7 linked regions of the Homo sapiens genome follow. The protein of the gene in region 5 interacts with the protein of the main gene of each other region in a pairwise test. Each region holds a gene or a part of one and is shown on either strand. Other genes may lie near its edges. The genes, in order: BAAT, ASL, PTPRJ, AXIN2, FBP1, DYNC1I1 and TLR2.

Region 1 (4,092 bases), 6.8 Mb from region 5:
GGCAGTTTCTCAACTGATAAAAACACCTGAAATTGATAATTGGCAGCTTTCAGGAACTGGGCGAATGAGCTCAAACATGCACATTAAGAGTCAAAATGGCAGAGTATGACCTTCCAGGGGCATTCCACCAGAATTTGAAAGAAAGCCTCAGATAAGCATGCATAAAACTCCAGTAAACACACTGTGCATGCCCACATCCCAAGCACAAGCAGGGCACCATGCATGTGGGTGGCTCCCCATAACCCTTAAGGGAAGGATGAAGGGAAAGGGGTGCAAGATGCCAGAAGTAGGCCAGCATATAAAATCCTAGGTTCAAGGATGAACGAGGCACTTGACCTCCAAGATGCCTGCTTGGGTCTCTCCCAAGTGTGTTTTCCTTTCTTTCCTGTTCTAAAGCTTTTTAATAAACTTCTGCTCCTGCTCTGAAACTTGCCTTGGTCTCTTTTACTGCCTTATGCCCCTCAGTTGAATTCTTTCTTTCGAGGAGGCAAGAAATGAGATTGCTGCAGACCCATACAGATTTGCCACCAGTAACTCAGATATTCACCACCCCTAACAATATTATCCATTCAATTTATTTCTATACAAATATCACATGCATCAACCAGCGTGCCCAAACAGAAATAAGTCAATTAGAAAGTCATTAACTTTAGCTCAAACTTATACTTGCTTTTTTTGGTATTTTTTAACATTACATTTCACTACCAGAAAGCATTCCTGAATTGCATAAATAGGTATAACATATATTCAAAGCTTCAAGAAATATTTTCACAGAATCTAATTCTAACATGGCATTAGTCTTACATTAAAAGAAAATTACCCTTCAAACAAAATATAAATAGGACCACAGTACAGTTTCCCAGAATAGGAGGGCTTATTCTATAAAATTCTAGGCAATAGTCTTTTAAAAGAGGGAGAAATATTGATGGGGATGGGGAAGACAGAATAAAGAAATTTTAACAAATGACTTCTGATAGCCTTTCATTTTCCTCAGAAATATAAATTTCAGCTCAATATCATCATAATAGCAAGTCCCTACTGACATCCTTTCTAAGCAAATCAAAATGAAAAGACACACTTATCTGAGCACTCTGGGCAACTCTACAGCTGAGATTATGAAATGAACAAAAAGACTATTTGTCCTCATGAACTGCTAAAATTCCAAACACTGAGGTAAATAAACTCTGATTTAATTCAAGAGCAGAGATTTTAACTTATTTCCAATCGGCCCAAATAAATAGTCCTGATTAAAATACAAAGTACCTGGATTCTTCCTCTTGAGCCTTCTTTTCCAGCAGTAGAGGGAAAATGACAGACACCCTACCAAAACTTGCCCAGAAGGCCAAAACCTCAAATATGCCTTTGGAAGTATAACAGAGCTAACTTAAGTGCTAGGTCACCACATACCTCTTGCTCTAGTTTCCTATTAATTTTTAACAGTTATTGAACCCAATAAATGTATCACTATTTTCCCTCTTCATTTTCTGTTCTCTCTAAATCCGTCCCTCTTAGGGATTGCCACTACATTTTACTCACATTATTTTAATAATTTTCTTTATAGAAGTTGTTTGACCCCTATTGGCACCATTAGGGCATATTTTTCTTCTGCAATAAAATACTCAAGGTAACTTCTGGAGGGCTCTGCATTTGCAAATGGTTTCTTTCCTGAGACAACAAAAGATGAAAACTACAAATGTGATCACAGTAATGAGTAATAAAATACTCAAGCCCCACTTTCAGAATTTGGGGAGGACCAAATCTCCTACTAATCCTCCTCAACTAATTCACATGGTTTCTTGAAATAGCTACAGAACGGAGTGTTAGTAGGATTTTACATGACAATAAAAGGACTATCTCCATAAAAGTACTGGATCTTTTTTGAGGTGATAGAGCATTTAAAAAGTGCAAACTTAAAGGAAACTTAAATTCAACTTAATTTTAAGGAAGTCTGATCAGCCAAATACTCCATAAAAAACTTGAAAACTATTAAGCTACTACCTTGCAAGACTTATGCTACAGATACAACTGATTAAGAATTATTAACTGGGATACATAAAATATTCCTAAAAAAGTAATGTCTAAAAATCTCAGGTGAATATGAGAAAAAGTCTTAAACAGGTACTTAACAGACAATAGGACACAATCATAAGCTTATGGGAAAAGGCTTAATCTCATTATCAAAGAAATGCAAATTAAAATCATGGTGTGTATTTCATACCTAAAAGGTTGGCAACAATTAAAAATTCCAAAAATAAGAGTTGGTTAGGAAGTGAATCACTCAGACTCAAGCCCTACTAAGGGAATATAAATTGGTACCACCACTTTGGAAAGCAATTGGACATTGTCTAATAAATGTGACAATATGAATAACTTTTGACCCAGCAATTCTTCTTCTAGAGAATAAAAATAAATGAATTACAACTACATGCAATAACCTGGATGAATCTTATAAACATAATGTCGTTAGAAACTAGTCATAAATACACATAAATAAATCTTTCAAATTTGTATTTGCTGAACTAAAACTATAGGCCACATTTTTGGAGTAAATCTTTAAACAAAAGCAAGGAAAGGATTACTGAGAGTCTGGATTGTGGTGAAAAATTACATTAAAAGAATGGAAGTAAGTAAATGAAAAAAATACATACCTAGCAAGAGAACCTGCCCCCAAAATTTCAGCGTAGGTTCTATTTTCCCTAAGTGTCGGCTGGTCTGAGAAATAAAGAGAAAGAGTACAAAGAGAGGAATTTACAGCTGGGCCTCCGGGGGTGATGTCACATATCAGCAGGACCGTGAGGCCCCGAGCCACAAAACCAGCAAGTTTTTATTAAGGATTTCAAAAGGGGAGGGGGTGTATGAACAGGGAGTAGGTCACAAAGATCACATGCTTCAAAGGGCAAAAGGGAGAACAAGATCACATGCTTCTGAGGCCAATAAAGATCACAAGGCAAAGGGCAATGCAAAGATCACAAGGCAAAGGGCAAACTTAGAATTACTGATGAGGGTCTATGTTCCACTGTGCATGTATTGTCTTGATAAACATCTTAAACAACAGAAAACAGGGTTCAAGAGCAGAAAACCGGTCTGACCTCAGATTTACCACAGCAGGATTTTTTCCCCATCCTAATAAGCCTGAGGGTACCGCAGGAGACCAGGGTGTATTTCAGTCCTTATCTCAACTGCGTAAGACAGACACTCCCAGAGTGGCCGTTTATAGACCTCCCCCTGGGAATGCAATTCTTTTCCTAGGGTCTTAATATTTAATATTCCTTGCTACAAGAAGAATTTAGCGATATCTCTCCTACTTACACGTCTGTTTATAAGCTCTCTGCAAGAAGAAAAATATGGCTCTATTCTGCCTGACCCCACAGGCAGTCAGACCTTGTGGTTGTCTTCCCTTGTTCCCTAAAATCACGGTTATTCTTTCTTTTTCAAAGTGCACTGATTTCATATTGTTCAAACACACGTTTTGCAATCAATTTGTACAGTCAGATACAATTACAGTGGTCCTGACGTGACGTACATCCTCAGCTTACCAAGATATGAGGATTAAGAGATTAAAATAAGACAGGCGTAAGAAATTATAAGAGTATTATTTGGGAAGTGATAAATGTCCATGAAATCTTCACAGTTTATGTTCAGAGACTGCAGTAAAGACAGGTGTAAGAAATTATAAAAGTATTAGTTTTGGGAACTGATACATGTCCATATTAAAATGAAATCTTCACAATTCATGTTCCTCTGCCGCGGCTCCAGCCAGTCCCTCCATTTGGGGTCCCTGACTTCCCGCAACACATACTATGCAACAATAAGCATAAGAAACCTAAAGTAGTAATGACTAAGATTATAAAATATATATATATCATATATCTATATGACAAGATCATAAAAACCATAAATCCGAATAATGGATTTCAAGATTTATGTGGCAAAAATTGACAGAATTAAAAGGAGAAATAGGAAAAATAACAATTCCATAACCATGAGTGAAGGTGTTTAAATCCCTTTTAACAATTGGTAGAAAACTTGAAAAAAATCAGTAAAGGCATAGATTTGAACACTATAATGACCTTACCCTAATCGCCTCAACAA
Region 2 (3,500 bases), on a different chromosome or scaffold from region 5:
AGGTGCTGGGAAGTCCCTTGAGGGTCATCAGGAGCCCGGCACACTGCGGGAAGAGGGAGGCACAGGGGCTGGACCCGGGATCCTGCCCCCCTGGCCACCCACCATCAGCCCAGAGGCCCCGCCCCTCCCCCTGCCTTGCTCACCCGCCCAAACACACGCCCAGCCTTGCTCCGGATCAGCTCCAAACTGTCGGGGTTTTTCTTCTGGGGCATCAGGCTGCTTCCCGTGCTGGGGACAGAGGTGCTGGCGCTGAAGGGGCTGGACCCTTGGCTGGTCCAGCGCCGCAATGGCCAGGTCTGGCGGAGGGGTGGGACGGGGAGGAAGGCAGCCACGTCCGCGGGCGGCGGGGGATACAGAGGCCGGCAGCGGCAGATGGAGGTGGCAGTTCAGGGCTTACCTGTAGGCATCTGAGAGCTGCACGAAGCTGAATTCCTTGGTGCAGTAGAGGATGAGGTCCTCGGCCATCCTGCTGAGATGGGTCATGCACAGCGAAGCCCAGAACAGGAACTCGGCTGGGAGAAAAGGTTCCCAGTCACCAGGCCTCTCCCATCCCCACCCAGCCTGACCATACAGGGGGCAGGAGGAGGTTAGGCGGTGGGGGGACCCGGCTAAATTTTCATTTTTCGCAAAGATGGGGTCGTGCTATGTCGCCCAAGCTGTTCTGAAACTTGTGGGCTCAAGCAATCCTTCTGCTTTGGCCTCCCAAAGTGCTAGGATTACAAACGTAAGCCATTGCACCTAGCGTGTTTTTTGTTATTGTTGTTGTTTTAAATAAACCAGCTTTACTGAGTTATCACTCACATACAATTTATCCATTTATTTATTTATTTATTTATTGAGATGGAGTCTCGCTCCCAATGCACAGGCTGGAGTACAGTGGCACAATCTTGGCTCACTGCAACCTCTACCTCCCAGGTTCCAGCGAATCTCCTTCCTTAGCCTCCCGAGTAGCTGGGATTACAGGCATGCACCACCATGCCCAGCTAATTTTTGTGCTTTTAGTAGAGATGGGGTTTCACCATGTTGGCCAGGCTGGTCTTAAACTCCTGACCTCATGTGATCCACCTGCCTCGGACTCCCAAAGTGCTAGGATTACGGGCGTGAGCCACCATGCCTGGCCTATTTATTTTTATTTTATTTTATTTTATTTTTTGAGATGGAGTTTCGCTCTTGTTGCCCAGGCTGGAGTGCACTGGCGTGATCTTGGCTCACTGCAGCCTCCGCCTCCTGGGTTCAAGTGATTCTCTGGCCTCAGAACTCCTGAGTAGCTGGGATTACAGGCACCTGCCACCACACACCCAGCTAAATTTTGTATTCTTAGTAGAGATGGGGTTTCACCATGTTGGCCAGTGCTGGGCATGGTGAACCACCATGCCCCACCCACTTTACCCATTTAAGGTTTATACTTCAGTGTACAATATCACCACAACCAGCCTGTCCGTGGAGGTGTGGGAGGAAACTGGAGAGAAGCTGGGCTGAAGGACTAAAGTGAGGCACAGGGCAGGGGACTGGCTCCCCAGGACTCACCCACAAAGTCCCGCTCACTAGTGGCATCCATGCTGTTGAGAGTGATGGCCCCAAAGTTGAGTTCTGGGGGGGTGGGAGGAAGCAGGGCTAAGCTGGAGGACAGGGAGTGGCCCCCTCTCCCCCAACTAGGTTGCCCAGCCCCCTCCCCTGATCAGGGTGGGGCAACAGCTGGGGGGAGGGATCTTTTGCACAGTCCCAGGAGGGAGGCAGGAGCCCTGAGTCTCTCAGTACCAGGCATCCCTGCCATGAGTGACCCCTGAACTTGATGACCTCAGTGCCCATAGGCAATGAATGAAGGTTTCACCAGGAGCCACAGGCCCCTGCCCTCTGGTTTCAGGTGTGTCTGCAGGTCTTGGCGGGTGCTGAGGGTGATTCTCCCTGGGGAGGAGGGGCAGGACGTCTCACCTGCTCGGAGCAGCTCTCGGTCCACACCCAGGGGATTGCCTGCAATGGCCCCACTGCAGGGACAGGGATTCATGGTGACCAGGGCTCCTGGCAGGCAGCCCTGACACACACACACACACACACACACACACACACACACACACGAACGCACACACAGAGAACCAAGTCCTGGTTGCCAGGGCAACCACCTGGCGCTTAGCCTCTTCCCTGGCCCAGTCTCCTTGGGTACAGAATACTTGTCCCCAAGTGTCCACAAAACACTTGTCCCCAAGCACTAAGTCACCCTGGGTGCAGGACACTTGTCTCCTGACACATGTTCCCACATGTCAGGCTGAGGGCAGCAGGCTGGGCTTGCCAGGAGCCTTGCTGGAGGGCTCTGGCCCTGCTCAGACACATTCAATGGCTTGGTCGTCACCTTAGCGAGAGCTGGGGCTCCATGCAGAGTCCCCCGCTGAGCAGATAAGGCGGTTTTCTGTCCCACTCTGCACTTCCCAGCTCTGTCAATCCCTAAGGCTATGCAGCAGCCACCCCCACCAGGCCCTCGGGGCACTGGAGCCTCACCCACCTCCCCAGGGGCAGGACATTGATCCGCTTCCGCACCTCCAGCAGCCGCTCAGAGTCTCGGGTCAGTGCCACGGCGTGGCTGTGGGAAGCCAGGGGCAGGAGGGTCAGGGCAGCCGGGGTCCTCCCCTCTAGCACAGCCCCTGCACCTCACCTGGCTCACCTCAGAATCCAGTGGCTCCAGCGGATGGGCTGGGCCCTCTGCAAATGGGTGTACCCCGGGAAGAGAACATCACGTTCCCTGTGGGAGAGGAGGAGCAGAAGCTCGGGTGGAGGCTCATGCAAGGCCTGCCTGTGACACTGGAACCCTGCAGGCCTGGGTCACCCCTGGAAAAAGTGTCACGCTGCAGCACTCCACCTGAATGAGGGATCTGGTGATCTCCCAGGGACAAATCAGTCTTAAGGGCAAAAGAAGCTGGAAGTGGGACCGTGTGAACCAAGGACTGGGCCTGAGCTGTGGGGCTTCCTGCAGTGAGGCTTTGCCAGAAACACCCCAAGTCCAGCCTCTGTCACTCAGCATCTCCGAGCAGGGGCCAGAATAGGGGAGGAGGCCCATGTTGGGTATGACTTGGCCGTGGGAGGTTTCGTTTGAGGACCCTAGAAATAGCTGGGGCTCATTCAAGGGCTGCTCTGAGCAGGTGAGATGCCCTGCACCTCATTCAAGTAGGCAGGGCAGAGGCAGAGGTGCTGTGAGTGATGGTCCTGTTTTCTTGTTGTTTTGTTTTGTTTTTATTTTTAGAGACAAGGTCTCGTTCTGTTGCCCAGACTGGAGTGCAGTGGCATGATCATAGCTCACTGCTGCCTCGATCTCCTGGGCTCAAGCGATCCTCCTGTCTCAGCCTCCTGAGTAGCTGGGACTAAAGGGACATGCCACCATGCCCAGCTAATTTTTAGTTTTTTGTAAAGATGGGGTCTTGTGGCCAGGCGCGGTAACTCACGCCTGTAATCCCAGCACTTTGGGAGGCCGAGGCGGGCAGATCACAAGGTCAGGAGATCGAGACCATCCT
Region 3 (3,500 bases), on a different chromosome or scaffold from region 5:
TCAATATTCACAATGTTGTGTAACTATCACCACTACCTGTACCCAAAACACTGTCATTATCCCCAGCATAAACTGTAGCCATTAAACAATAATGCCCACTCCCTCCTCTGAACAGCCCCTGGTAACCTCTATTCTAATTTCTGTAGAATATTAAGTTGCCTAATCTAGGTACTCATGTAAGTGGAATCATCCAGTATTTGTCCTTCTGTGTCTGGCTTCACTTAGCATAATGTCCTCAAGATCCATCCATGTTGTACCATAAATCAGAATTTCTTTCTTTCTTATGGCTGAATAGTATTTTGTTGTATGGATGAACCACATTTTATCTATCCATTCATTTGTTGATGGGATCTTGGGTCCACCTTTGGCTACTGTGAACAATGCTACTACTATGAACACTGATGTACAAATAACTGTCCAGGGGCCTGTTTTCAATTCTTTTGGAGATATACATAGGACTGGAATTACTGGATCATATGGTATTCGTTTCCTTTTTTTGAAATTGCTTTTAATGCTGTTAAGCTGACTTTTTCCAATAACAATAAAGGTTATTTGATAATAGAAAGGTAACCCCCCTAAGAGTTTAGATCTTATAGCAAGCCTTCTTGACTTTCATTCAATGGGACCATTGAATGAAACGGGTCCTTTGAGACAATGCAATTCCAGGCAGGTGTTAAAATTACCCTGTAGAAATACTGATATTAAGAGGAAAGAATATTCACAATAAACTATAGTAAAAGAGATGCCCTCTCCTCACTAATACTAAACTTTACTGCTGTACCACATCAAAGTGTCAATCTACATGGTGGTTAAGCACTTGGTCTTAGACAGCAGACACAGGTCAGTTTGCCACCTTGTCACTCTGGGCCAGTTACTTAAGTTTGCAGAGCCCCCATTTCTTACTCTGTAAGACAGAAATGATAATAATACCTGCTCCATGAAGTTGTGTTAAAAATGTAAAATGCAGTATGAGAGCACTCAGCACTTCGCAGACCCCCAGCATATTATATTATTGTTACAGTAAGTTCTGGGCAATAGCAAGTAGCACAACATCATGCATCTCCCTCAGTGGTGATCCTCTTACCATTATCCACATCCTTAAAAGACAGAAGAAACATGTTGACGTTAAGACGTCATGTCAACAGTCTGAAATGCAGATTTGCAAAGGGAATACTGCATTTCATCTGAGGGATGCATTTTAGTAGATCCCTTATTTCAGAAGCAGATCCTCTGAGTGACTATCGGTGCTTAACCCAACCAGCACAGTTGAAGAAGCTTCTTCAAGGAGAATCTCAAAAGCGTAACTCATTTCATGTGTGTTTCAAGGAATCTGTCCCATTTCTTTTATATATATATATATGTTTTTATTATACTTTAAGTTCTAGGGTACATGTGCACAACGTGCAGGTTTGTTACATATGTATACATGTGCCATGTTGGTGTGCTGCACCCATTAACTCATCATTTACATTAGGTATATCTTTATTCTACCCTCTGTATAAAAGATTTCAACTATCTTGAATCTTAGATCAAGGAAGACTGTATGTTTTTCAACCTTTCCAAAAAACAATTATTTCAAAATTTTAAAACAACAATAATGAACATTACTCTCTAGGATTTCCCAGAAGTTTCTCCTGTAGGCCTAGAAATAATTTAATAATTTAAACTGTTTCTATAAAAAAAAATTTTTTTTTGAGACAGGGTCTCCCAGGCTGGTGCTAGTCTGCAACTGTTGGGCCAAGCAATCCTCCTGCCGCAGCCTCTCAAGTAGCTGGGACGATGGGTGCAGGCCACCGTAGCTGACTATAAAATGATTTTATCAATTTCAATTAGCCTTCTAGAACTAACAAAGTATCTCATCACAGTGTTGTTTAGGAAAGACTGTGAACAGTCCACCTGCCCAACACAGCACAGTAGTTAATTTCTAACACATCTTGACCAGAGGTTCTTAAACTTTTTGCTCTCAGGACTTCTTTACCATCTTAAAAGTTATTAAGGCTCTCAGAGAATTTGTATTTACATAGGTTATATTTATTAATATTTACTATATCAGGGATTTAAAATGAAGAAATTTTTAAAATGTAAGAATCCACAGCATATATTCCATTAGACCTGAGAGACAATGTCATCCCATATCGGATCAAAGTTGGAAAACTCCAAAAGAGAATGAGAATGAAAAAGCCAAATAACATTTTAGTATTGTTATGATAATACTACCTTGGAGACCCCTTGAAAGAACCTAGGGATCCCTAGAGAGCCCTGGACCACAATTTGAAAACCACTGATCTAGCCCAGAGGTCAGCAAACATTCTCTGTAATGGCCAGAAAATAAATATCTCAGGCTTCACAAGCCACACGTTCTCTGCTGCCACTACTCAATTCTAGCACCAAAGTAGCCATAGACAGTACATAAGCAAATGAACATGGCTGTGATCCAATAAAACTTTATTTACAAAAACAGACAATGAGCCAAATTTGGCATAGGGGCCATTCTTATCTGCCAACTCTGTTTCAGATGATGGAATTCCAGGCAGGTGTTCAAATCATCCTGTAGAAATATTTTATTAAGAGGAAAGAATATTCATAATTAATTGGCAAGTTGGGGAAAAGGCAGATTACAAAACCACATGTACAGATGGCCTCAATGTTTGTGAAAGAAATAAATATATATTTGTGGGCTGGGTGCAGTGGCGCACACCTGTAATCCAAGCACTTTGGGAGGCTGAGGTGGGCAGATCATTTGAGATCAGGAGATCAAGACCAGCCTGGCCAATATGGCGAAACCCTGTCTCTACTAAAACTATAAAAATTAGCCAGGCATGGTGGTGCACACCTGTAATTCCAATTACTCAGGAGGCTGAGGCACAAGAATCGCTTCACTTGAACCCAGGAGATGGAGGTTGCAGTGAGCCAAGATCATGCCACTGCACTCCAGCCTGGGTGACAGGGTAAGACTGTCTCAAAAAAAAAAAAAAAAAAAAAAAAAAATATATATATATATATATATGTGTGTGTGTGTGTGTGTGTATTAAATATTAAATATATATGTATTAAATATATGTATACTCACACATATATTTGTGTATCTATATGTATATGTTTAAAAATTGTAAAATGTCATACATCAAAAGTGATTATCTCTGCTTGATGGTTTCCATGTAAGTTTTTTCTACTTACTTGTCTGTATTTCATATAATAAATAAGCATTAGTGTTATGAAAATTTTTAAAGTTTTTTCTTAGATAATTAAAAGAAAAACAATATTTGGAAACATTATGTTTATTAATTATACTGATTTCCTTTAAGAAACATGATGGTTTAACAGAAAAGCCTATTTGCTTACCAGTTCTATTGCAAACTGTCCGAGATGCCCCTTCAGTCCCATTTGGTCCTTTTGGAACTATTTCAAAGCAATACTTGGTTCCAGGGAACAAGCCACCAATGATAATACTTTGGTTGGTGGTTATTTCTACCCGAGAATTGCCAGCTCCCTCCTGTGTG
Region 4 (3,500 bases), on a different chromosome or scaffold from region 5:
ATTACAGGCATGAGCCACTGTGCCCAGCCGTAAACCTCTTCTTTTTATAAATTACTCAACCTCAGGTATTCCTTTATAGCAAAACTGACTGATACCTCATAATCACATCACTGTGCTCACCATCACAACCCAAAAAACCATGTAATGCCTATTGTCCAGTTCTTTTCTCTCCCTTTGCCCTAGGGGACCTTAGGTACTGCTCTTTTCTACCTTCCCTATACCTCTCCCCATTCCACCACCCATTTCTTTTCTTTAGGACTCAACATGGCAGAAAACAGCTGTCTCCTCACTCCAGACTGTACTCACCGGGAAATGAGGTAGAGACACTTGGCCATTGGCCTTCACACTGCGATGCATTTCTCTCTGGAGCTGTTTCTTACTGCCCACACGATAAGGAGGAATTCCATCTCTAAGGGAAAGGAAAAGACAGAATCCACAGGCTTACGAGGATGTTTTCAGCACATCACATGGGCTACTGTCATATGCCATCTTGAGATCCCGCCGACAGGGCCACATGCTTCCATAGGAGTGTCACATGTCTCCAGATACCATCGGTGCTCCCACAGGGAAGGACCCACCCAAGGTCAAATTTAAATCCTGCCCATCAATCATCTATGGAAACTTGGCTTCCTTGGATGCAGAAGCATCAACTTGGAAAGAGCCTGGAAAGTTAATCTCTCGGACTGTTGTCTTAGAACTGGGTTACACTCCAGCCAGCCCAGGCAGAGCAAAGGCTCCCCTATTTTACAGGTGCCCTAAGTAGGAGATTCTCAGGCCCCACTGGTCCTCCCACTTGTTCCCACTGCTTCAAACCAGGAACCAGTGCCTTATGGATAGGGCCAGGGCAGAAAGTTGTAGGGATAAGAACCAAACCTACAGAGGGCTAAATCAGGCATTAGTGAAGCATGCATAACTCTCCAAGTCAACCTCCTAGTCATTTCCAAATGTATTTCTTTTTATAAACCAGTACAGCGTGATTAATAAAAAGAATATATAACATTTAGGCCCCTTCTCTCAGCTCCAAACCCTACCACCCCCAACCAATGAATTTTCAAAGACACATGACCAATGTGGGCATGAAGAGAAAAGCCCCTACTATGTGGTGGTCTGTGCAATCCATTTAAAGATTAGCACCTACTATGTGCCAGATCTTCTCCTAGGCACTAGGCAAGAGAGCAGTAGACAAAGTGGATACATAATTCAAACAACTGCCCTCTTGAAGTTTACATTCTAATGGGGAGGCACAGGCAATGAACAAAATAAAAAATAGTATGTTAGTGATATGTACTATGAATAAATACACAGCAGGAAAAGGAGAATCACTGGTGAGTGGGTAAGCTGCAAATTTAAATTGGATGTGGGTGTCAAGTCCTCATTGAGAAAGGGACCTTTGGGCAAAGACCTGAAGAAGTATGGGCCCCTATCCATTATATTTTTAAAAACAAAACATTAACAAGTAGAAGAATTTTTAAAAAGCTGCCACTCCAGCTAGTGTTCACTACAACTATGACCTAGAGTTGCCATGATTTTTTCCAGAAAGAATTTCCTTCTTAAAAGCAGAATGGTCAAGGTGTGACTATTTTCCCATTGATGTCCCTTCAGGAGGCCACTTATTTACAAAAGCCTCAGGGTGCAAACATTTTCATAATGAATCATACTTGGAGGCTGTAAATATTGAAATTGGGTGTTTGGCTACTTCCCTTTCCCCAATGTCTGGTTCATCATAGGGTGGAAGAAAAATAGGATAATTAGCAATGTCTAAAAATACCCAGGGGGCAAGCCAGGAGTAACTAGTCAACCTCTAGCTCCTTATCTGAAATGCCCTAGAATTCTAAATAGCTGCATTTTCAGGAAGTCTACTGACCTAGGTCAGAAAACAGGAACACAAGGGACAATGAAGATTCCAATAGATCAACAAACCAATGTATGTTAACCAAACCCTGGCTAAGGAGTGCATAAACGATAATTGCACTGAGGTGAGTAGGGAAGGGAGAGAAGAGAGATCAGTATCCAGAGCAACAACTTACCCCCAAGTGTGAGTACTGCCCCAAAGAAAGGTAAGTATGGAGCAGAGACAGAGCACTGTGGGAAGGATTCGCAGCAGCTGGCTGACCAGTGCTGGAGAAACACGTCTTCTACTCATGACTGAGAAACAGCCTCCTACTCATGAGGCTCGGCACCTGACCAAGCCCACCTAAAGATTATTTATCAAAACTCTGTGTCTTCACCTTGGGTAGCTGAAAACGGGACTTATAAGCATGCCTGGCTTGACCAGAAACCAAATCGCACCCAAGGCAACTGATGCCAACCTGAGAATGCCAGCTCATAGATACCGAGTCCCTACTGTACGTCAGACATTGGACCTATAATCAGACTTCATTCTCATAAGAACCTTAATGAGCCACATTTTACAGATGACCAGAAATGCTCAATAGCTCACCTAGTGTTACAGTCAGTAGCAGATTGACAACTCATACCCAAGCCACTGCTGGACTCCAGAACAGGCATCTGTAACAACCTACACTTGGTCATTTCAATAAGATGCCCTTCCCAGCCCCAATCAGCAGTCAAGCTTCCTGATGGTCTTAATGTGGAGATGCCATTTCCTAAGCCCCACGCAGTCACCTGACATTGATAAGGCATGAGGGGGAAATTTGTGGAATTTTCTGGGAAGTCCTCCCCAACCACCTAGTACTCACTAGCTATGGGGCTCGCCAGGTGGTTCCCAAGCCATGCTGAATATCCCCATCTCTCACCTAAGATACCTTGTATGGTAGGGGTGGCGGTATCCCACAGATTGGGCTCATGCTGGTCTAACCAAATTCTGCTGCCCTAGGGCTGTAAGACAATGTCTATCCTCCATCTCTCTTCTAGGGACTTAGACAGTGGATGACTCTGCTTCAGCCCTGTTCCTGACAGTCTTGGGGGCAGGAGTCAAGCACTCCATGGACCCCACCATGACACAAGTGACATAAGGCTTCAAGAGTCCTAGAAGAGTCCCCCGTCCACCCCCTCCAAGACTCTTGACATTTCCACTGGTAGCTTTCACTCTTCCTTCTCCCAGATGAAAGTCAGTGGTAGAGCTTTTATGCCTCTTTTTCTTCTTCCATATAATAAGGTTAAAAAAAAAAAACAGGATGGGGGTAGGGATGGGGAGGGGAGTAGATAACTGCAATATTGAAGGCAAAAGGAACAAATGATTTCATAAGCACCTCATACCCCGCCCCCCATCCCCCACCACCACCACCACACACACTCCATTACCCAGGGCAGGTGAAGGACTAAACTGCTGGAAAGGCAACTTGTAACCAGAGCAGAAAAGGAAGATGTCAGCCTGTAGAGGCTCAGAAAGGCTTAACAGGCACCTTCAAGGAAATGTGGCTTTAATTCCCTCCAGCCAAGAATCTTCTTCCAAAACAGCCCCTCATTCCAAAAGGGGGCCTCTCTTCTTTTATTCAAGCTCTAAAAGTCTGTGATCAGTTTCCTGGCTGCTCAAGCCT
Region 5 (3,500 bases):
CAACCAGCTAACTAACCACCTCCCCAGGTGAAAACTAGGAGGGGCAGGGAAGCGGTGGAAAGAAATGGGTTTGTGGTTTTCTGGTTTGTGGTTTTCTCATTTATATGAGTAGTTGTTATGCTTGAATGTGAAGTTCTTACACTTGAGTGTGAAGGTCACCCCTTCACATTGCATAGTGCAATGCAGATTCTCAGGCCCCGCCATGGAAAGTCTGACAGTGTGTCTAGGCTGTAGCCCCAGAATATGCATTTCTTTTCTTTTTCTTAAAGAGGCAGGTTCTCATTCTGTCACCCAGGCATGTGCAGTGGAATGATAATGGCTCACTGCAGCCTCGACCTCCCAGGTTCAAGTGATCCTCCAGCCTCAGCCTCCTTAGTAGCCACAGGCACATGCCACCATGCCTGGCTAATTAAAAAAAAATTTTTTTTCGTAGAGATGGGGTCTCCCAGTGTTGCACAAACTGGTCTCAAACTCCTTGCCTCAAATGATCCTCCTACCTTAGCCTCCCAAAGTGCTGGGATTATAGGGATGAGTCATGACCCCGGCTGTGAATGTGCATTTTTAATAAATATCCCAGGTGATTCTAATGCAGGTGCTCTGTGGGCCACCCTTTTGAAAGTTATGGGAAGAAATTACCTGGAATGTTTTGCTGGGATGACTTCCTTCTCCAGCTGCGTGATACAGATGCCCCTGCTTACGCTCAGCTGCAGGAATCTAGGAAAAGAATAAGTGAAGTTCGAGAAATTGCATATTTTTATTTCTGCTTAATTCAAGCAGAGAGTAGTTAAGCTGAAAGATTTGTTTGGGGCTGTCTTGATGACCAAAGAGGTCAATCCAGTGTTAATAAAGAAGATCAGGCTGGGCGCAGTGGCTCACGCCTGTAATCCCAGCACTTTGGGAGGCCGAGGCAGGTGGATCACGAGGTCAGGAAATAGAGACCATCCTGGCTAACACGGTGAAACCCCCTCTCTACTAAAAATACAAAAAATTAACTGGGTGTGGTGGCAGGCGCCTGTACTCCCAGCTACTTGGGAGGCTGAGGCAGGAGAATGGTGTGAACCCGCGAGGCGGAGCTTGCAGTGAGCCGAGATAGCACCACTGCACTCCAGCCTGGGCGACAGAGCGAGACTCCGTGTCAAAAAAAAAAAAAAAGAAGAAAATCATTAATAGTAAGAAATCAGTGGTTAGGAGCTGTCTCCTTAAGGGGCTCCCTTCCCTAGTGTTAGAAAAACTCTGGACCACATGACCCAGTGGGCTGTGTTTTTAATGAAAAAATGGATTACGGCACATGCCACGTTCTAAGTGTAGGTATTATTTTGGTAACTTTTTGGTGTGTGTGTGGGGGCACTGGTTTGTGATGTAAAATGTGCTTCTTCCCATGCATCACGGTTAAAACACTGGACAGCATCTGCTCTACCCCATAATGACTCTGGGGAGATATTCTGAGTTCCTACGTTTCTGAGAATTTCCCTGACGTGTGAGTGATATAGACCACATGCTCAGCAGAGTATGGGCTGCAGCGGCAAGAGCTCACAAAACTGATTTCCTCCGCAGACTGGCTGCCCTGCAGCCCAGTGTTAATTTATTTAAATAAAGATGGAGTAGGCAGGTGACAGAGATGGATGCCCGTAATAAGATTAAATTAGTGGGAACTGGCAAGAAGGCATGCTCTTTTTTGGAACTGATAGTGGAGAGATGAGGGAATATCACATTAGAAAAATTGGAGGAGGGCCCTAATTGGAAAGAGGAATCCAGATGCAGGAAATCTGGGTTCTGGTGGGAAGGCTGCCGTGATAATCTAATCAGGATATTGCTGATGTGTAGGGGAAGGCCCCTCTGGGAAGATGCCCTATTTCATTAGAAGAGCACCTTGAGAATGCCTCCTGTTAATGGTTGAACTGTAAAAAAGAATCACAAAACAAAACAAAAACATTCTTTGATTTCTTTCTTGCTCTAGAAATCAACTGATGAGCCTTCTGAGAAGGATGCTCTGCAACCAGGCCGGAACCTGGTGGCAGCCGGCTACGCACTGTATGGCAGTGCCACCATGCTGGTCCTTGCCATGGACTGTGGGGTCAACTGCTTCATGCTGGACCCGGTGAGAGACCTCACAGGAGGCTGGGGGCTTGGCTGGTGTCTGTGAGCAAATGAATGATATGTGTGGGGGATTGGCAGGGGTATGTGGAGGTGGGAGGTGATGCCCATGGAGGGACAGAGATGATGATGTGTGGTGGAAAGGGGGCAGGAGACCAAGAGAGAGTGTATGCCTCCCGAGCAGACTATGGAGGTGAGAAATGCCATCTCAGACTGGCACAAGAGGGGGTCTTTGTTCCAATGTGAATTCCTCAGAGCAGCTGTTACTCAAATGACCCAAATGCCAGGTCCAGGCAGGCCATAGGGATGATGAAGTGTGCTGGGGAAGGAAGGCCGGGGGGCAAGGGTGGAACTGGGGTGAACTGAAGAGTTCCAGCAATTACAATTGGGAGGAGGGGGCCCGCCTTGCCAAGGCTTCTATTAATGGTTCAAGAAACACTGGATTGTAAAAAACATAATGTTTCTGCATGTGTGCAACACTATGTTGGCCAACTAAAATGCATTTATGGACCTGATGGGGCTGTAGATATTCTGTTTGCCATAAACTGTATCCATCCATTTCTAGCTTTTCTACTTTAGTCACCAAAAGGCTGTTTTCCTGAGACGAATGGGTGTGCCAACTGAAGCAGTGGACGACATTGCTTCTTCAAAAATAGCTCCCACATTTATTCGTGTACATTTACACAAACCTTCAGTTAACTGGTGCAGTCTTTCTTTCTTTTTTTTTTTTTTTTCTGAGATGTAGTCTTGCCCTGTCTCCCAGGCTGGAGTGCAGTGGCGTGATCTCGGCTCACTGCAAGTTCTGCCTCCTGGGTTCGAGCGATTCTCCTGCCTCAGCTCCTGAGTAGCTGGGACTACAGGCGCCTGCCACCACACTTGTATTTTTAGTAGAGACGGGGTTTCGCCATGTTGGTCAGGCTGGTCGCGAACTCCTAACCTCAGGTGATCTGCCCGCCTCAGCCTCCCAAAGTGCTGGGATTACAGGCATGAGCCACCATGCCTGGCCAACTTTTTTAACTTTTAGAGATGTCCTCCTATGACATTAGTGAACTATGTGTAAAGTGCTTTTTGCTGGCAAACTGAACCCCAGGAACAGACAAGGAACAGGAACCTTCTGTGCGAGATAGGCTGCTGGAGGTGAGGCCGGGTCTGTGTGTGGCAGGAAGGCTAACTCAACACAGGCTGCCTTTGTCCCAGGCTGTCAGGGAAGTGGACTTTCACCTCCTTGGAAGCATGGGCACTTAACAAATAAACAAGGGTAGGGTAATAGCACTAGTTAAAGTCGCCAAATGTGGTGACCTGGGTAGGGGTGGGGTGGGGGAGTTAGTGGCAGAACCAGAGCAAAGTTCCACCTGAGCCCAGGATGGAATTTCGGGCACCACTGATGTTTGCTGACTGTGATTTGC
Region 6 (3,500 bases), on a different chromosome or scaffold from region 5:
AATGGGTAAAGGGACTTTTCCTTCCTTGCTGCTAATTTTAGTGATGAAGCAGATCATTGGATGATCCAGTTATCTGTATGACATAGTCACAGCATCCTCTCCTTTATCCCAGTTGCTGATGTGCACCCTATGTGTGGATATCACAAACTTTGAACACATCACAGGATCAGAATCAGTCTGTGTTGCTTAGACTGTTAGCTTGCACTTTCAATTTAATGGACTCCTTGGCTGAAATAGTTTATTTGCACAAGAAAGACTAAACTCTCAAGCAACTATAATGATATGATACCTCAGAATGATTTTTTAAAAATTATTTCAGATGCACAAAATAGGCTATTTGATGTAAATAGCCAGAAATACTCAGGGATATTAGTTATAATTGATTATTCTTTTCTGTCATTAAACTTAACTCAGCAGTATATCTTTTAAGATTAGGAATCTTTAATTCTCAATTTTAAAAAATCATATTATAAAATAAAGACTCCCATTTGCTATTTTAAAGACGTATTTAAATATTGTTCTTTTCAGGCTTATAGCCTATTCACCCAATGGCTGCCCTGCATGAAATCTAGTCCCTGTTGAAATCTGGTTTTTATGACCTGAGTGACAACTTTCTGGTTTTAGTCCATGGAGGACACATACTCCTGCTTTGACAAATTTGCTTAGTACATCTGATATTAATACATGTGTATTCTCACAAACAATTGATTTTGAAAATGTTTGTAAATACAAGGGTATTGTGTGTTTTATTAAAGCTTGGAGCTGACAAGTGTAACCATTATTATCTTTAGTTTCTGCACCATTAGTTTCAAAATTCTCACCTGTCATCTTTGCCTGACTTAAGAAGCAGCAGCACATGCTGATGAAATCCAGCCGGCTTGAAACCAGAGATCCACAGAAGCATGAATGTCAGGGGCAGTAAAGCATGGTTTCTGGCACAGCCGGGGTCTTTTGTAACGCTGTGTGAAAAGCAAACACATGATTTAGCCAAATGATTTTTCCGTGCTATCTTTGGCATGGCAAGGAGTTGACAGATGGAAATGTAACCACACCGTGTTTTGGTAGGAGAGCATGGAGCTGGTGTACAATAAGTCCAAGCCTGTCGCTGTTACCGGAATGGCTTTCCCAACGGGAGACGTCAATAACTTCGTGGTTGGCAGTGAGGAAGGTACAGTCTACACGGCTTGTCGTCATGGAAGGTGATTTTTCTGTTTCTTTACTGATGACATGTTCTTCATTTCCGAAAGTCTGTTATCACATTCTGGATTTTAACCACCTTGCATTATGAGAAAGCATCTCTGGAAAAATGGAAAGCACGACTTCAACTCTTCATTATCTTAAAGAGCTGCATCTGCTCTGGTCATTAGCTGTTCATAAGACTGTGGTGGTTCACACTGCCTTGAGGGAAAAAAGCTCGAGCTTCTGAGCCTATCATAACAGACCACTTGCACCTTCCCAGCATCTCCGCATACCTTCAGGGTCTAGCCATGTGCCCATCAGAGATAACAATCCCCAAATATTTCTTATCCCTCCATGCCTCAATGAGTTTGCATACTCAACTTCTTTTACCAGTTCTAGCATTTCTCCCTTTTTGGCCTGGTTAATTCCTCCTCATCATTCAAGAGCCAGCACAGAGATCATTCCATGTGAAACATTTTCTGACTCTTGGGCAAAGAAAACCACTCCCACCTTTAAGTCCCATAGAATTTTCAATTCTCTTATTCATTCACTCTTCCAAGGAATATTTACTAAGAACCTACCATGTGCCAGGCATCATCAAAAGGATACATTAAAGAACAAGACAGACCTAGAGTTCATATTCTAGTTGAGGGTAAAATACTAATAAGCAAATAAATATATAGTTTAGGATGGTAAGTGCAATGGAGAAAATTAAAGTAGAATAAGTGGGATAGGACTATAGGCTGTCAAGTTGACAATTTCATATATTTTCCTTATGCTTCTATAATAGCATTAATCGTATTTTAGTTTATTCATTCATCTGCCATTTTTCTCTTACTACATTATTTCCATTTCATCTTTGATTTCCTGCACAGTACCTAGGACATAGTAAGTGAGGAGCTAAAAATATATATTGGGGATAAAGAAATGATATATAATGTAATCCATCCAATCTAAAGAAGTGCCTTAAAAGCTTTCCTCCCAGTCAGATGGGTCAGAACAGAGTGAGTCACACAAACCACCATGCAGTTCCCAGGTGATAAGAACTCTACCTTAACTGAGAGATTCACAATGCCCCTGGAAAAGAGTTGTCAGTATAAAGTGGAATCCAATAGTTTGGACTAGATTGTAAAATTGCATGCAAAACTTAACAGGTGGCCTCATGTCTTTTGAAAGGGTCACTATGTTCACACTGGTGCTTAATTTGTCTTTTACTTTAGTAGTTCTTATTCCATTGATTTTTTTTCATCTCTTGCACTCATCCGAGGCTATTAAGATTTAATGAAGAACCACAAATTGTTCCAAGTTCATATCCCTGTGTTTTTGTGATTTGTAGAAATGACAAGCATCCATGGCTCAGCTATGTGACTTTTTCCATTCAAACTATACAAGCTGTTATGTTCCTGCTGTTCTGCACGTAGAAACAAGCAGTATTTGTCCCCTCACATGATTCAAAGATGACTTAGGAAGATATGCCTCACAGTCCATTCCCAATGATCCTCCTTCATAAACCCTGGCTAAAACCACACATTAAAGCTTTATCAAAGCATAAAAATATTTGATAAAGTTATTCATTCATAAATATATTTGTTGTATGCCTACTTTGAGCAAAGTGCATTGTTAGGTTCTGCAAGGCCTGCAGACGTCATGTAAACCTGGTTTCTCTCTTCAAAATAACTGATGACGGTGAGAAAGATAAATACACAAATATCTGGAACATGAGTAGAATGTCTTAAGTGGCATGAGAGGCATAGAGAGTATAGTAGGCCAGACCTGGAGTCACAGCTTTATCTATATGCGTATTAGAATCAACATGGCATAGGTTCAGTTAACTTAACCCATGGTTTTACCTAGGTCCTTGATTATCTACGAAGGCTATAGAATACATTCATTGATAATTTCCAGATTTTTTTCATTGCTATAAAGTGAATAACATTTTACATGATGAACATTCTTGTTCTGTGGCTACTGTACTTTCTAAGCACTATCAGAATATGCACTTTGGTTCAAAAGAAGGGTCCCTATGGCACACACCACAAATCTTTTTACAACAAGCTGAATTTTGCTTTACATTGGTCCATCCATCTGAAATATAAAATACAGACCTTAGTAACATTGTAACGTAGCAGGCATTGGCTTTGTAGTCATTCTAAATGGGTCATATAGGTCTATGGGGGAGAAGCAGGGGATTGCTATTTTTCACCTAACATAGAGAAGGTGCAAATCCACTTCCATAAATTAAACAAGGTCCTCATTTTGCACCCTATAAATCCTTTCAGGATGCTGTTAAGAGCAAGTGGAGTCTCACCAGGGGCCACTTC
Region 7 (2,741 bases), on a different chromosome or scaffold from region 5:
TCTGACTCTAGTGCCCAATTAACCACATACACCCAGTTCTGGTTGAGAATTGAGCAGGGGTCAAAGGCTCACTTCCTTTCACATGGTTCCCAGCTTAAGAAAGTTACATAGAATCAGCAAATAGTGCTTACCAAAGAAAGTTGCATCAAAATTTAATGTGTGGTATTATTATACCTAGATTGCAAAATTAACATATGGTAGTAGTATCTACCTTTAAATTACTGTGTATCAAACTATTTTTGAGTCATTATGAGGAAACTCTAGGTATATATTTGCTTAAAAATCTATTTAGCTCACATGTACTTTTTAAAATATTCAGAAGGGGAAAAAGGGCAGGCTTTTTTAGAATTAAAAACAAGACTTTTCGAAGAAGGAAAAAGCAACAAGATGCAGGAGATATAGGCTAAAAAACAGGAACTGAGAGTCAGAGTGATTGGACAATAACTAGAACTCAAAAGGTAGTTAGAGGCTGAGGAAGACCAGAGTCCGGATGTGGGAAGTGTCTTTCAAATTCTCCTAAACTGAGTATTTATTTTGTTAAATTACAGAAATACATAATTTACTGTACCTTGCACTGTGTACTCACTCTCTCAAGTAACTATGGCTGGAGAAACCTATCTAATAGCCAGAAAGACAGATCCAGATCACATGAAAATACACCCTCTAGTATTTCTCATCCTGTAAAGTTTAATAGGAAATACACAGCACTTTTTTCTAGGAATAGCAACAAGTTTTGGGGAGTGCCCCAAATACTTTGCCTTGTTGCTCTTGAGATCAGCTGCACAGAGAAGTGACAGCTAGGTAGGACAGAGAATGCCTTTTGTGGCCACAGAGGAGTCTCTTAGCAGGAAGAAAGAATGACACAGTCATTGAGAATCTTAAGTTCATTTGTGCTGTTTCCTAATGAACTAAGCCAGTTGCTACAGATTACAGTTGGCCCTCTATATCCATGGGTTCTGCATCCATGAAGTCAACCAACTGTGGATCAAAAGTATGTTTTAAAAATTTTGAAAATAAAAAATAACAATAATAATATAAATAAAAAGACAGTACAACTATTTACATAGTATTTACATTGTATTGGGTATCATAAGTAATCTAGAGATGATTTAAAGTATACAGGAGAATGTACACAGGTTATATGCAAATACTATGCCACTCTTATAAGGGACTTGATCATCTATGAATTTTGATATCCACGAGGATCCTGCAACCAATTCCCTTGGATACCAAGGGACTATATTCAGATATCAGTAATAGACTTATGATCATGGTTATCTCATAGAAAAAAGAAAAACCAAAAACCAATTTTTAAATCTGGCATATGTTTATAAAACAGCACCCCAGACAAAATTTGAAGTTTTGTAGTTTTAGTAAGCAAGTCCTCAAATGACGGTACATCCACGTAGTTTTTATATAATTATGTCTGAATGAACTTAACTATAACTAGTGACATAAAGATCCCAACTAGACAAAGACTGGTCTTAAATATGGGAACCTAGGACTTTATCGCAGCTCTCAGATTTACCCAAAATCCTTCCCGCTGAGCCTCGTCCATGGGCCACTCCAGGTAGGTCTTGGTGTTCATTATCTTCCGCAGCTTGCAGAAGCGCTGGGGAATGGCTTTTTTCTCAATGGGCTCCAGAAGAATGAGAATGGCAGCATCATTGTTCTCATCAAAAAGACGGAAATGGGAGAAGTCCAGTTCATACTTGCACCACTCACTCTTCACAAAGTTTTCAGAAAGCACAAAGACAGTTTTGTGGCTCTTTTCAATGGAGTCAATGATATTGTCAATGATCCACTTGCCAGGAATGAAGTCCCGCTTATGAAGACACAACTTGAAGGGGGGATTGAAGTTCTCCAGCTCCTGGACCATAAGGTTCTCCACCCAGTAGGCATCCCGCTCACTGTAAGAAACAAATGCATCATAGCAGATGTTCCTGCTGGGAGCTTTCCTGGGCTTCCTTTTGGCCTGGAGCCAGGCCCACATCATTTTCATATACCACAGGCCATGGAAACGGTGGCACAGGACCCCCGTGAGCAGGATCAGCAGGAACAGAGCACAGCACATGCCAGACACCAGTGCTGTCCTGTGACATTCCGACACCGAGAGGCGGACATCCTGAACCTGCTGGCCACGCACATGGGATGGAGAGTCACACAGGTAATTTGCTGGCCAATCAATCAAGACTTTGGCCAGTGCTTGCTGCTCCTGAGTGAAGGAGAGGAATTCACAGGAGCAAATGAAGTTATTGCCACCAGCTTCCAAAGTCTTCAGTGTGTGAAATGAGTCAAGTTGCTCCTTAGAAAACGTAGTTATTGCATTCCTACTGATTTTCAATACTAGTAACATGGGTAAGAGGGAGGCATCTGGTAGAGTCATCAACTTATTTCTGGAAATATAAAGTTCTTTGAGTTGCGGCAAATTCAAAGAAAATAAATTGAGATTGTTGTTGCTAACATCTAAAATTTCCAGTGTCTTGGGAATGCAGCCTGTTACACTGTGTATTCGTGTGCTGGATAAGTTCAAATATTTCATCTTTTCTGGCCACTGACAAGTTTCAGGCATAGAATGAAAACTATTCTTACTGATATCAATGTTAGTCAAGTTTTTCAGAGTGAGCAAAGTCTCTCCGGTTTTTTCCAATGATGCCAAATGATTTTGCCTTAAAATTAAAGTTTGTAGAGAGGGCCAGGCATCCTCACAGGCTGAATTTTTCAAGTATTCTTCAACCATC

Evidence for each region.
Region 1: the proteins of FBP1 (region 5) and BAAT interact in a two-hybrid assay, tested with the Homo sapiens proteins (one large-scale study listed by IntAct).
Region 2: the proteins of FBP1 (region 5) and ASL interact in a two-hybrid assay, tested with the Homo sapiens proteins (one large-scale study listed by BioGRID and IntAct).
Region 3: the proteins of FBP1 (region 5) and PTPRJ interact in a two-hybrid assay, tested with the Homo sapiens proteins (one large-scale study listed by BioGRID and IntAct).
Region 4: the proteins of FBP1 (region 5) and AXIN2 interact in a two-hybrid assay, tested with the Homo sapiens proteins (one large-scale study listed by BioGRID and IntAct).
Region 6: the proteins of FBP1 (region 5) and DYNC1I1 interact in a two-hybrid assay, tested with the Homo sapiens proteins (one large-scale study listed by BioGRID and IntAct).
Region 7: the proteins of FBP1 (region 5) and TLR2 interact in a two-hybrid assay, tested with the Homo sapiens proteins (one large-scale study listed by BioGRID and IntAct).

Annotation. Positions count from the first base shown.
Region 1 is NC_000009.12:101,382,207-101,386,298, forward strand, and holds the start of BAAT (bile acid-CoA:amino acid N-acyltransferase), read right to left. Parts: upstream 2,801-4,092; 5' UTR 2,649-2,800; intron 1,668-2,648; exon of another isoform or gene 1,537-1,667; intron 1,359-1,536; exon of another isoform or gene 1,264-1,358; intron 1-1,263. UniProt on the Homo sapiens protein: Catalyzes the amidation of bile acids (BAs) with the amino acids taurine and glycine. More than 95% of the BAs are N-acyl amidates with glycine and taurine.
Region 2 is NC_000007.14:66,085,819-66,089,318, reverse strand, and holds part of ASL (argininosuccinate lyase), read right to left. Parts: intron 2,735-3,500; coding exon 2,657-2,734; intron 2,576-2,656; coding exon 2,498-2,575; intron 1,986-2,497; coding exon 1,933-1,985; intron 1,591-1,932; coding exon 1,528-1,590; intron 513-1,527; coding exon 398-512; intron 229-397; coding exon 144-228; intron 44-143; coding exon 1-43.
Region 3 is NC_000011.10:48,130,559-48,134,058, reverse strand, and holds part of PTPRJ (receptor-type tyrosine-protein phosphatase eta isoform 1 precursor), read right to left. Parts: coding exon 3,343-3,500; intron 2,549-3,342; coding exon of another isoform or gene 2,544-2,548; exon of another isoform or gene 1,339-2,543; intron 1-1,338. UniProt on the Homo sapiens protein: Tyrosine phosphatase which dephosphorylates or contributes to the dephosphorylation of CTNND1, FLT3, PDGFRB, MET, KDR, LYN, SRC, MAPK1, MAPK3, EGFR, TJP1, OCLN, PIK3R1 and PIK3R2. Plays a role in cell adhesion, migration, proliferation and differentiation.
Region 4 is NC_000017.11:65,541,149-65,544,648, forward strand, and holds part of AXIN2 (axin-2), read right to left. Parts: intron 410-3,500; coding exon 307-409; intron 1-306. UniProt on the Homo sapiens protein: Inhibitor of the Wnt signaling pathway. Down-regulates beta-catenin. Probably facilitate the phosphorylation of beta-catenin and APC by GSK3B.
Region 5 is NC_000009.12:94,608,519-94,612,018, reverse strand, and holds part of FBP1 (fructose-1,6-bisphosphatase 1), read left to right. Parts: intron 1-1,957; coding exon 1,958-2,098; intron 2,099-3,500. UniProt on the Homo sapiens protein: Catalyzes the hydrolysis of fructose 1,6-bisphosphate to fructose 6-phosphate in the presence of divalent cations, acting as a rate-limiting enzyme in gluconeogenesis. Plays a role in regulating glucose sensing and insulin secretion of pancreatic beta-cells.
Region 6 is NC_000007.14:96,034,554-96,038,053, forward strand, and holds part of DYNC1I1 (cytoplasmic dynein 1 intermediate chain 1), read left to right. Parts: intron 1-1,065; coding exon 1,066-1,199; intron 1,200-3,500. UniProt on the Homo sapiens protein: Acts as one of several non-catalytic accessory components of the cytoplasmic dynein 1 complex that are thought to be involved in linking dynein to cargos and to adapter proteins that regulate dynein function.
Region 7 is NC_000004.12:153,704,020-153,706,760, reverse strand, and holds the end of TLR2 (toll-like receptor 2 precursor), read right to left. Parts: coding exon 1,499-2,741; 3' UTR 501-1,498; downstream 1-500. UniProt on the Homo sapiens protein: Cooperates with LY96 to mediate the innate immune response to bacterial lipoproteins and other microbial cell wall components. Cooperates with TLR1 or TLR6 to mediate the innate immune response to bacterial lipoproteins or lipopeptides.